Linked DNA regions of Homo sapiens: region 2 is linked to region 1. The links come from fine-mapping of genetic effects on gene expression. A gene starts in region 1. The other region holds a variant in brackets. All regions are shown on one strand. Distances are from middle to middle.

Region 1 (4,400 bases):
CAGCTTTGCCATTTACTATATGACCCCGGCATGTGTCTTAACATTTCTGCCCCTCAGTTTCATTATCTGTAACATAGGGATAGTAACAGTACTTACCTCATAGGAGTGTTAGGAAAATTAAACAAGTTAATATTTTTGAAGTGCTTAGAACACTGCCCACCATGTCAATAAAATTTCATGAGAAAGTAGTGTCCTTTTTGAATCTACAGATTGAGAAAATATGTACCTAACTCCAAATTACCATGAATTCAGTAATACTATATAAAATAATTCATATTTGTTTATCACGCCTGGATTTGTACAATTTGCAAGACAGTATATCTGTGAAAGATGCTATTACTTATCAGTCTATAGAAACTGTTTAATATGCATATGAATTTGCAATAAATCTGAGGAGGTCAGGAGTTCACAATACACATACATGCTCCACACACTGATCCTCAGTGTCTGCAAAGTAGGACTATAATTGGTCATTTTTAACTAATTAGAATCCTTCTAGAATTTTTATGTTTACACTAATATAATGTTCTCTCTCCTCCTACCAGAGTCATGGCTCAATATGACCCGTGAGAGTTGAGTAAACAAAACCAACACATACCGCAGAAGTTTGGCACCCTGGAAACTTAACATAAGAAATGATTGACTAGAGTACTGAGAGGCATGTTTAGAATGCAAGTGTAATGAACAAAGCTTCAATCTACTTTAGCCCATTGCCTGAGAATTGACTGCATTAACAAAAAAGGGTTAGCCAACAGCAGATGCAGGGAACGGTCAGAAAACAAAAGGTGACAAGGATCTCTTGCACTGTCTAGAGGAAAAGGTACCCTGACCTATGAACACAAATAATCCAATCTCTTGAACACAAATATCCCTACACTGTGGAGACACAAAGCCTCATGATTGTGTCATTAATTTTTAATCTATCCTTGTTTGTTCTGATCCAAGTTTAACAAGCAACATCCTGTGATAATATGGCTTCTCATATAGTTTTGTCTATGGGAAAAAGATATGTTTGGCACTATTACTTTTCATCGTAAGTGAGTAAATCAGCATTCTAGATTACGCAGCAGTTGCTATGAGTGAATTTATTTAACATGAATTTCTAAAAGACTTGTCAACTCTGGGTGCCCAGGAGTCAGGTTTAGCACCTCCAAAAAGACAGAGTAGAGGATGAGACCCTGAAATGAAAGGACTACAGGTACTACTACCTCATGGGAGTGAGGCAGTCCCAGACCATCTTTTATAATAGCAATATGGAATCCTCATTCCCAATAGGCTTGTAACTTTGCTTTTTTCTGGTAGAGAGTGATCCCTACTACATTGTTATCCCTAGGAAAAGTAGGCTAAGACGTATTTTTGCCTTTGACAACCAGTTCTGGTTTGGAATGTGTGGTACATCAATGACTTAAACTATGTTAATTAACTACTACTTATGTACTGTATTGGTTCCTTCAGTTCAATAATTAACCTGAGTAATGAGCAAAACATTTTGTTGGAAGATGTATGGCTATAAAGATGGATTATAGCAATGTGGAAGTAACCTAACTGTCCATCGTCAGATGAATGGATGAACAAAAGGTGCCATATGCATACAATGGAATATTAGTCTTAAAAAGGAAAGATATTCCAGCACATGCTACATCATGGATGAACCTGGAGGACATAATGCTGAGTGACATAAGCCAGACACAAAAAGACAAATACTGTATGATTCTGCTTATATGAGGTACCTAGAGTAGCCAAACTTACAGCAATGGAAAGTAGAATGGTGGTTGCCAGGGCCTGGAGAAGGGAGGGATAAGGAGTTAGCATTTAGTGAGTACAGAGTTTGTTTTACAAGATAAAAGGTTTTGGAGATGGATAGTTGCTCAACAGTATGAATGTATTTAATGCCACTGAACTATCCACTTAAAAATGGTTAAGGTGGGCCGGGTGCGGTGGCTCACGCCTGTAATTCCACCACTTTGGGAGGCTGAGGCAGGCGGATCACGAGGTCAGGAGATTGAGACCATCCTGGCTAACAAGGTGAAACCCCGTCTCTACTAAAAATACAAAAAATTAGCCGGGCGTGGTGGCGGTCGCCTGTAGTCCCAGCTACTCGGGAGGCTGAGGCAGGAAAAATGGCGTGAACCCAGGAGGCGGAACTTGCAGTGAGCCAAGACATCCGCGGCGATGCACTCCAGTCTGGGCAACAGAGCGAGACTCGTCTCAAAAAAAAAAAAAGAAAGAAAGAAAGAAAAAAAACCATTAGGCCCAGGAGAATCAGACTGCGTTGCCCCCACTGTTCTCAGTTCAGCTGTCGCTCCCAGGGTTTGGACCAGAAAGCCCTCGCCGGCCCAACAGATGGCGCCGGTGTCCGCAGTGCGCCTCCAGGCCCAAAGGGGGCGCTCTCGCCAGGCCTCTTTTTCCTCTCCTGGGTGACTCTTCCGCCTTCCGAGCCCGCCTTCTCGCCACGCACCTGCGTCAGCTCGCTCTGCGCGTGCGCCGGTGGCGGGACTCTGGGGAAAATGGCTGCGTCTTCGAGTGGTGAGAAGGAGAAGGAGCGGCTGGGAGGCGGTTTGGGAGTGGCGGGTGGTAACAGCACACGAGAGCGGCTGCTGTCTGCGCTTGAGGACTTGGAGGTCCTGTCTAGGTAATGCGGCGAGCCTGAGAGCCGGGCTGGAGCTGGGCCGGGGGACTGACCCCGGAGCCGGCCGGCCCTGCGTTTGTGCTCGTTCTCGGGGTTCGGCGGGGAGGGCCAGCTCGGGAGTTTCGGGTGCATGAGGGTCATGGACGTGGGGTCCGCAGCCCTCTGGCACTCTGGGCGGCGGTTTTTCCCGTTAGAGGGAATTTTAGTAATGATAAGAACTCGCGCGGTCTGAGCCTCTTCGTCCGCGGCCAGCCACTTAACATTTATGGAACGCTCCTTGGGGGCTCAGCATTGGGGAGACGGTAGTGAAGGGTAGACTGGATGCCAGCTGTCGAGAGAGAGACAGATGTGTAAACTGGCTTGGGGCCTGTTTTTATTAGAGGGCTGCGCTGCGGGGTACTGGAGCACAGGGACTAGGCACCTTTTTTGGTTGTAGTCAGGGCAGGCCCTCTGAAGAAAGTGCTGCTTGGGAAGCATGAGCTCGCCAAACTCACTAGGCAGCACAGATAGATGGAACAGCAAGTGCAAAAAGCCTGGCTTGGTGGAGTTGCAAGTTGTTTAGGATGGTTGTGTGTCAGAGATAGGAGATGAAATTAGATGTCGTTCTTCATATTCTGTCACCTTTCATGATAAGTCTTTCAAGTTGAAGCCTTCCTTGACTCCCTCCCATTGACTTGGATGGTAAATTATCTTGGTTCTACCTCCTAAAGTGTCGCTCCAATTTGCCCTCTCGTTCCAACCCCGCTGTTCATAACTCCTTCTTAAATGTAGCCTCCCAAACAGTTTTAATTGCCTCATGCTTCTGCACTTTATCCTTTTATATTGGCCGATACCAGTTTTAAAAGGCATCTTATATCACTTTTCTGCAGAAAAATTATATAAAAGCTACCTCATTGGTAGGTTTGCGTTGTCCAGTGAGGTAAAGTTCAAATTCTTTAGTCAGACTTCCACATCTTCAGTGCCATTCCCAGTCTACTCCCGATTTGGTGAATGATTCATATATCCTTCAGAATCCAGCTCAAATGTCACTTTTTCTATAGCCAACATTCTTTGACAGCTTTAGAATAAATCTTACCTGTTGTATTTTAAAATATACGTGATATAATCAGCACTTTATTTTTGGTGTAAATTTAGTCCTTGCCATCGTATTGCTACCAAGTTACCAGGTCAGCACAATATTTAATGATGGAAGAAAACCCGAAAACACCTAGACAGCAGAAATTAAATGGCTTATGTGTTTGATCCACTGTTTAAAATAAACTGTATTAGGGCCGGGTGTGGTGGCTCACGCCTATAATCCGAGCACTTTGGGAGGCCAAGGCGGGCGGATCATTGGAACTTCTTCACAGAATGAAGCTGCTCTGGTGGTGTGACTGGCTTCCAGAAAGGTCTCATGTGTTCACTCAGAGGTAGTTATGTGTACTGATTCTGTGATCTGTGAAGTTTGTCAGTCTCTGAATGTAATTTGTGTCTGGCTTGCATTTATGAAAATGAGAAGAAAAATCACGAATATACCTTACATATTTTTAGATTTAGCCTCTTTAAAAATAGTGGATTTATAACTTAGGATCTTTTTTTTTCTATTAACCTGATTATATAGCCTTTCGGGATATTTATTAGTTTATAAAATGTAATGCAAGGAGATAGTCTTAAAAAGTTGAAACACAGGTTGTAGGCTAAACGTTTTTTTTAACCCATTTGTAACTCAAAACTCATTGTTCCACAGAACCATGTTGATAGGAATCTTGAGTTTTCCACACCAGCCTGTTAA
Region 2 (4,400 bases), 860 kb after region 1:
ATGTGTGTGTATATATATATGTGTATATATGTGTGTGTATATATATATAAAAGTGTGTGTGTGTATATATATATATATATATATATATATAATTTATTTTATTTTATTTTTTGAGACAGAAGTTTCACTCTTGCTGCCCAGGCTGGAGTGCAGTGGCATGATCTTGGCTCACTGCAACCTCCGCCTTCCGGGTTCAAGTGATTCTCCTGCCTCAGCCTCCTGAGTAGTTGGGATTACAGGTACTTGCTATCATGCCTGGCTAATTTTTTGTATTTTTAGTAGAGACGGGGTTTCACCATGTTGGCCAGGGTGGTCTCCAACTCCTGACCTCAGGTGATCCACCTGCCTCAGCCTCCCAAAGGGCTGGTTTACAGACGTGGACCACTGCACCCAGCCCAAAAATATTTTGATGTATGTATACATTGTGAAATGTTTAAATCAAGCTAATTAATGCATCCATCATCTCACATACTTAGTTTTTGTGATGAGAACATTTCAGATCTAAGCTCTTAGCAATTTCCAATCACACAATACATTAATTATTGTCACCATGCAGCACAACAGATCTCCAGGACTTGCTCATCCTGACTGAAACCATTCTCCCAGAGTTCCATTCTAACATCCCAGAAAACAAGGTAAGAGGCCCAAATTAAGAAGCCTGTTCAACCATTGCGGAAGACAGTGTGGCAATTCCTCAAGGTTCTAGAACTAGAAATACCATTTGAGCCGGCAATCCCATTACTGGGTATATGACCAAAGGATTATAAATCATTCTACTAAGACACACACACACGTATGTTTATTGCAGCACTGTTCGCAATAGCAAAGACTTGGAACCAACCCGAATGATGACCAGTGACATATTGGACAAAGAAAATGTGGCACATATATTCCATGGAATACTATGAAGCCATAAAAAAGATGAGTTCATGTCCTTTGCAAGGACATGGATGAAGCTTGAAACCATCATTCTCAGCAAACTAACACAGGAACAGAAAACCAAACACCACATGTTCTCACTCATAAGTGGGAGTTGAACAATGAGAACACATGGACACAGGGAGGGGAACATCACACACCAGGTCCTGCTTGGGGGGATGGAGGGCTAGGGGAGGGATAGCATTAGGAGAAATACTTAATGTAGATGACGGGTTGATGGGTGCAGCAAGCCACCATGGCACATGTATACCTATGTAACAAACATGCATGTTCTGCACACATATCCCAGAACTTAAAGTATAATAATTTAAAAAAACAACAACAACAGAAAAAGAAGCCTGGCCAAGTGCAGTGGCTCATGCCTGAAATCCCAAGTTTGGGAGGCTGAGGCAGGAGGATTGCTTGAGCCCAGGAGTTCAGGACCAGCCTGGGCAACACAGGAAGACCCTGTTTCTACAAAAAATTAGAAAATTAGCCAGGTATGGTGGCACATGCCTGTAGTCCTAGCTACTTGGGAGGCTCAGGCAGGAGAATCATTTGAGTCCAGGAGTTCAAGGCTGCAGTGAGCTATGATCACACCACTGCATTCTGGCTTGGGCAACAGAGTGAAACCCTGTGTCCAAAAAAAAAAAAAAAAAAAAGATAAATATGCTAGGGCTGGGCACAGTGGCTCAGGCCTGTGATACTAGCACTTTGGGAGACTGAGGTGAGGGGCTCGAGACCAGCCCTGAAGTCATAGGTTCAAGACAGTCCTGGGCAACAGAGTGAGGGCCCATCTCTTAAAATACAAAAAAAAA[G/AG]AAGAAGAACCTTAAGCTTACACTATCTTTGTTTTTCAGGTTAACTCAGCCACATGTGATACTCAGTTCAAAGTTCAAACTCCCAATCATTCCTCTTTTCCCATCAGAGTTTTCCTTCCTTCTCCCCTTTTCTGAGACATGTCTGGATTCAGGATGAACCTTATTTATCCTCATGGATTTATGAGGAGAAGCTTCTGTGGCATAGGTTTCCTTCCTGCTTTCCTGGTCTCTTTAGTAGTGTGCCTGGTTTGCTCTGGACTCTGTGCTGGTATCCACCTGGATGTTCCTACTCCCACTTGGACTTTTGGCCTTGTCCTGGCTCCTGATGCTGAAGTCTACAGTGACTGTAATTTGCCGTGGATATGAGGTCCCTGCGCTCTATAACAGGGCTTAGCAAACTTTTTCTATACAGGGATAGAAAGTAAATACCTTAGACTTCGTAGATCACATGCAGTCTCTGTCACATACTTTTCTTGTTGTTTACTATTGTTCTCCTCCTCCTGTTCCTTCCTCCTTTTCCTCTCATTTTCTTCCCTCTCTTCTGTCACCTTCATCTTCTTCTTTTCTATAGTCCTTTAAAATTTTTTTAAAATTATATCTCAGGGCTGTAAAAAGGTAGGCTGTAACAGGAGTTGGCCTGCAGACCACAGTTTGCCAAACCCTGCCCTGCGGCCTTTGTCTTCTGACCTTGGGTCCCTTCCTATTCCCCTACATGGATCCACATTCCTGGTATGCAGTCTATGGAAGACTGTAGACTATTATTACAGGTCCGTCTATCAAGAAAACTCCCTCTACTCACAGCTTCATTGCTTTTGCACCATTTTGATCCCAGAAACAGAGCAACAGCCAGAATGTTCTTTCATTCCCTCTCAACCTAGCTGGGTTTTTTGTTGGGATTTGATTGCTCGAGGCCCAGGAGATACGAGGTGCTAGGTCTGCTTTCAGGGACTCTGGCGGCAACATTCCCATTCTAGTGACATCGTCACTAAATTCCTCTGCTTTTCCTCTCAGCAAAGGGCTTTCTACTTATGTGGGGTGGGTTATGTCTTATGATAAACCATGGTTTATAGTAAAACTCTTCTACTATGTTATATTAGCCTTGTATTTTACTACATAGAAGGGAGATTTGGGAATTGAGGAAACAACTTTCATTCTCAACCAAGCTTAGTTTTATGTAAACTTCAAGATTGTTTTTTGTTTTGGAAATGGACAATTAAAAGCAGATCATTTTTCAATACAACATATTTCCCAATACATTCCTGAAATAATTATCCTAAGTCCCCATGTTACATAATTACTGTCTGATTTATCCATTACTCAGATGTACACAAGTTTTCTTAAGCAAGGGTGCACTGTATGTATTTCAAGTTACTAGACATCTAAACTGTTTACTGCTGACCATGAATTTGCCATACTTTGCAGGAAACATTCAGCTTCAGGGTAAAGTCAAGTATTCTAAAGTCGTATATTATAATCATCTATTTAAATATTTTAAGTGATCATTTATTCATAAGGCCCTACTTTTTTCTTCCCAAGATATTTGGCATGATGCAACAGCAATTAAACGGCACTTATAATCATAATCACAGCAATTATTATGTTTTCTGGCAGCTCTGTGCCACCCTTACATAGCAAGCCTCCAGAGATGTGTTCTGCCTCTGGAACAGAGAACATCTGCCCTCAGCAGTGGCTCCAGCCTGTGCTCCTGCCTGGATCACTCATGAGAGCCTCTGTAGTGACTCTGCCATACCCTAGGAACCATCGTCAGTGACTCAGTGTCACCCAGCAAATGAGAAGGCTGCTACAGTGCTTAGCTGCCCTTTTCCTCTCATAAAGATTCTTCATTCTTTGATATTTGCAGAGTTAAATACAGCAGATTTAAAATTCCAAATGCATCCTACTTTAGATGCCCAGAAATATGGCTCAAGCTTTGATTACAGAAAGAAGTAAAATGTATGAGATGGTTCACTGTGAATTTAAAAATAATTTTCAAAAAAGCTGGATTTCATTCAGAAAGGCCAAAGCTGCTTGCCTGCTTGCTTGTGCCTATGTTCTTGTTTTCTCTCTCTCTCTCTCTCTCTCTCTCTGTGTGTGTGTGTGTGTGTGTGTGTGTGTGTGTTTAAGAGGAGGAAGAAATGTCCAGTCCAGCATCATGAGCCTCCTTCTTCCTGAGATCCCTGGAGAATATGAGAATATGAGGTGGACACCACTGGGCTAGGCTGTTAAGGAATTGAACCTCCCACCTGCCTGGTCTGAAATTCCAGCATTAGAACCACCTCTTCTGGGAAATGTTCTTTTGCCTTTTCAAGCAGGGTCATGGGTTGCCTCTTCTATACTCCCACAGCTAAGGTGATTAAGTGTCCCAGTTTGCCAGGAACTATACCATTTTTGAAAAAAATGAAAGTCCCATATCCCAGAAAACTCAGGAGTCCTGGGCAAACCAGGGCAGTTTGTCACCATACTACTGTGTTCAAGGGTCAGTGTTTACACTATTATAATCATCTAGTTAGCTGCTGGTTGCCCTCATTAAATGTAAACTCCTTGAAGGTAGAAATTATGTCAAGCTCTAAAAAATTTTTTTGTTGAAAGAATGAAGGAGCATTTGAGAGAATGAGTAAGTGAATGAATGAATGAATGAATGAATGCATGGATGGAACTAATTAG

What was found. PIP is the estimated chance that this variant, and not a neighbour inherited with it, causes the effect. A credible set is the group of variants that fine-mapping cannot tell apart.
Region 2: its variant is the best candidate, but not a certain one, in a credible set for the expression of MED4 in rectum (CEDAR, PIP 0.61).

The regions. Positions count from the first base shown.
Region 1 is chr13:48,093,186-48,097,585 of GRCh38, reverse strand. MED4 (mediator complex subunit 4) reads left to right here and starts at 2,482. Exons shown (of 7, transcript NM_014166.4): 1 at 2,482-2,632. The coding sequence starts at 2,508. RefSeq lists a silencer at 2,979-3,273.
Region 2 is chr13:47,236,850-47,241,249 of GRCh38, reverse strand. No RefSeq gene overlaps it. Among named protein-coding and RNA genes, the nearest start is that of HTR2A, 340 kb to the right of the region's middle. The variant G/AG (reference allele first, on the strand shown) is at 1,737.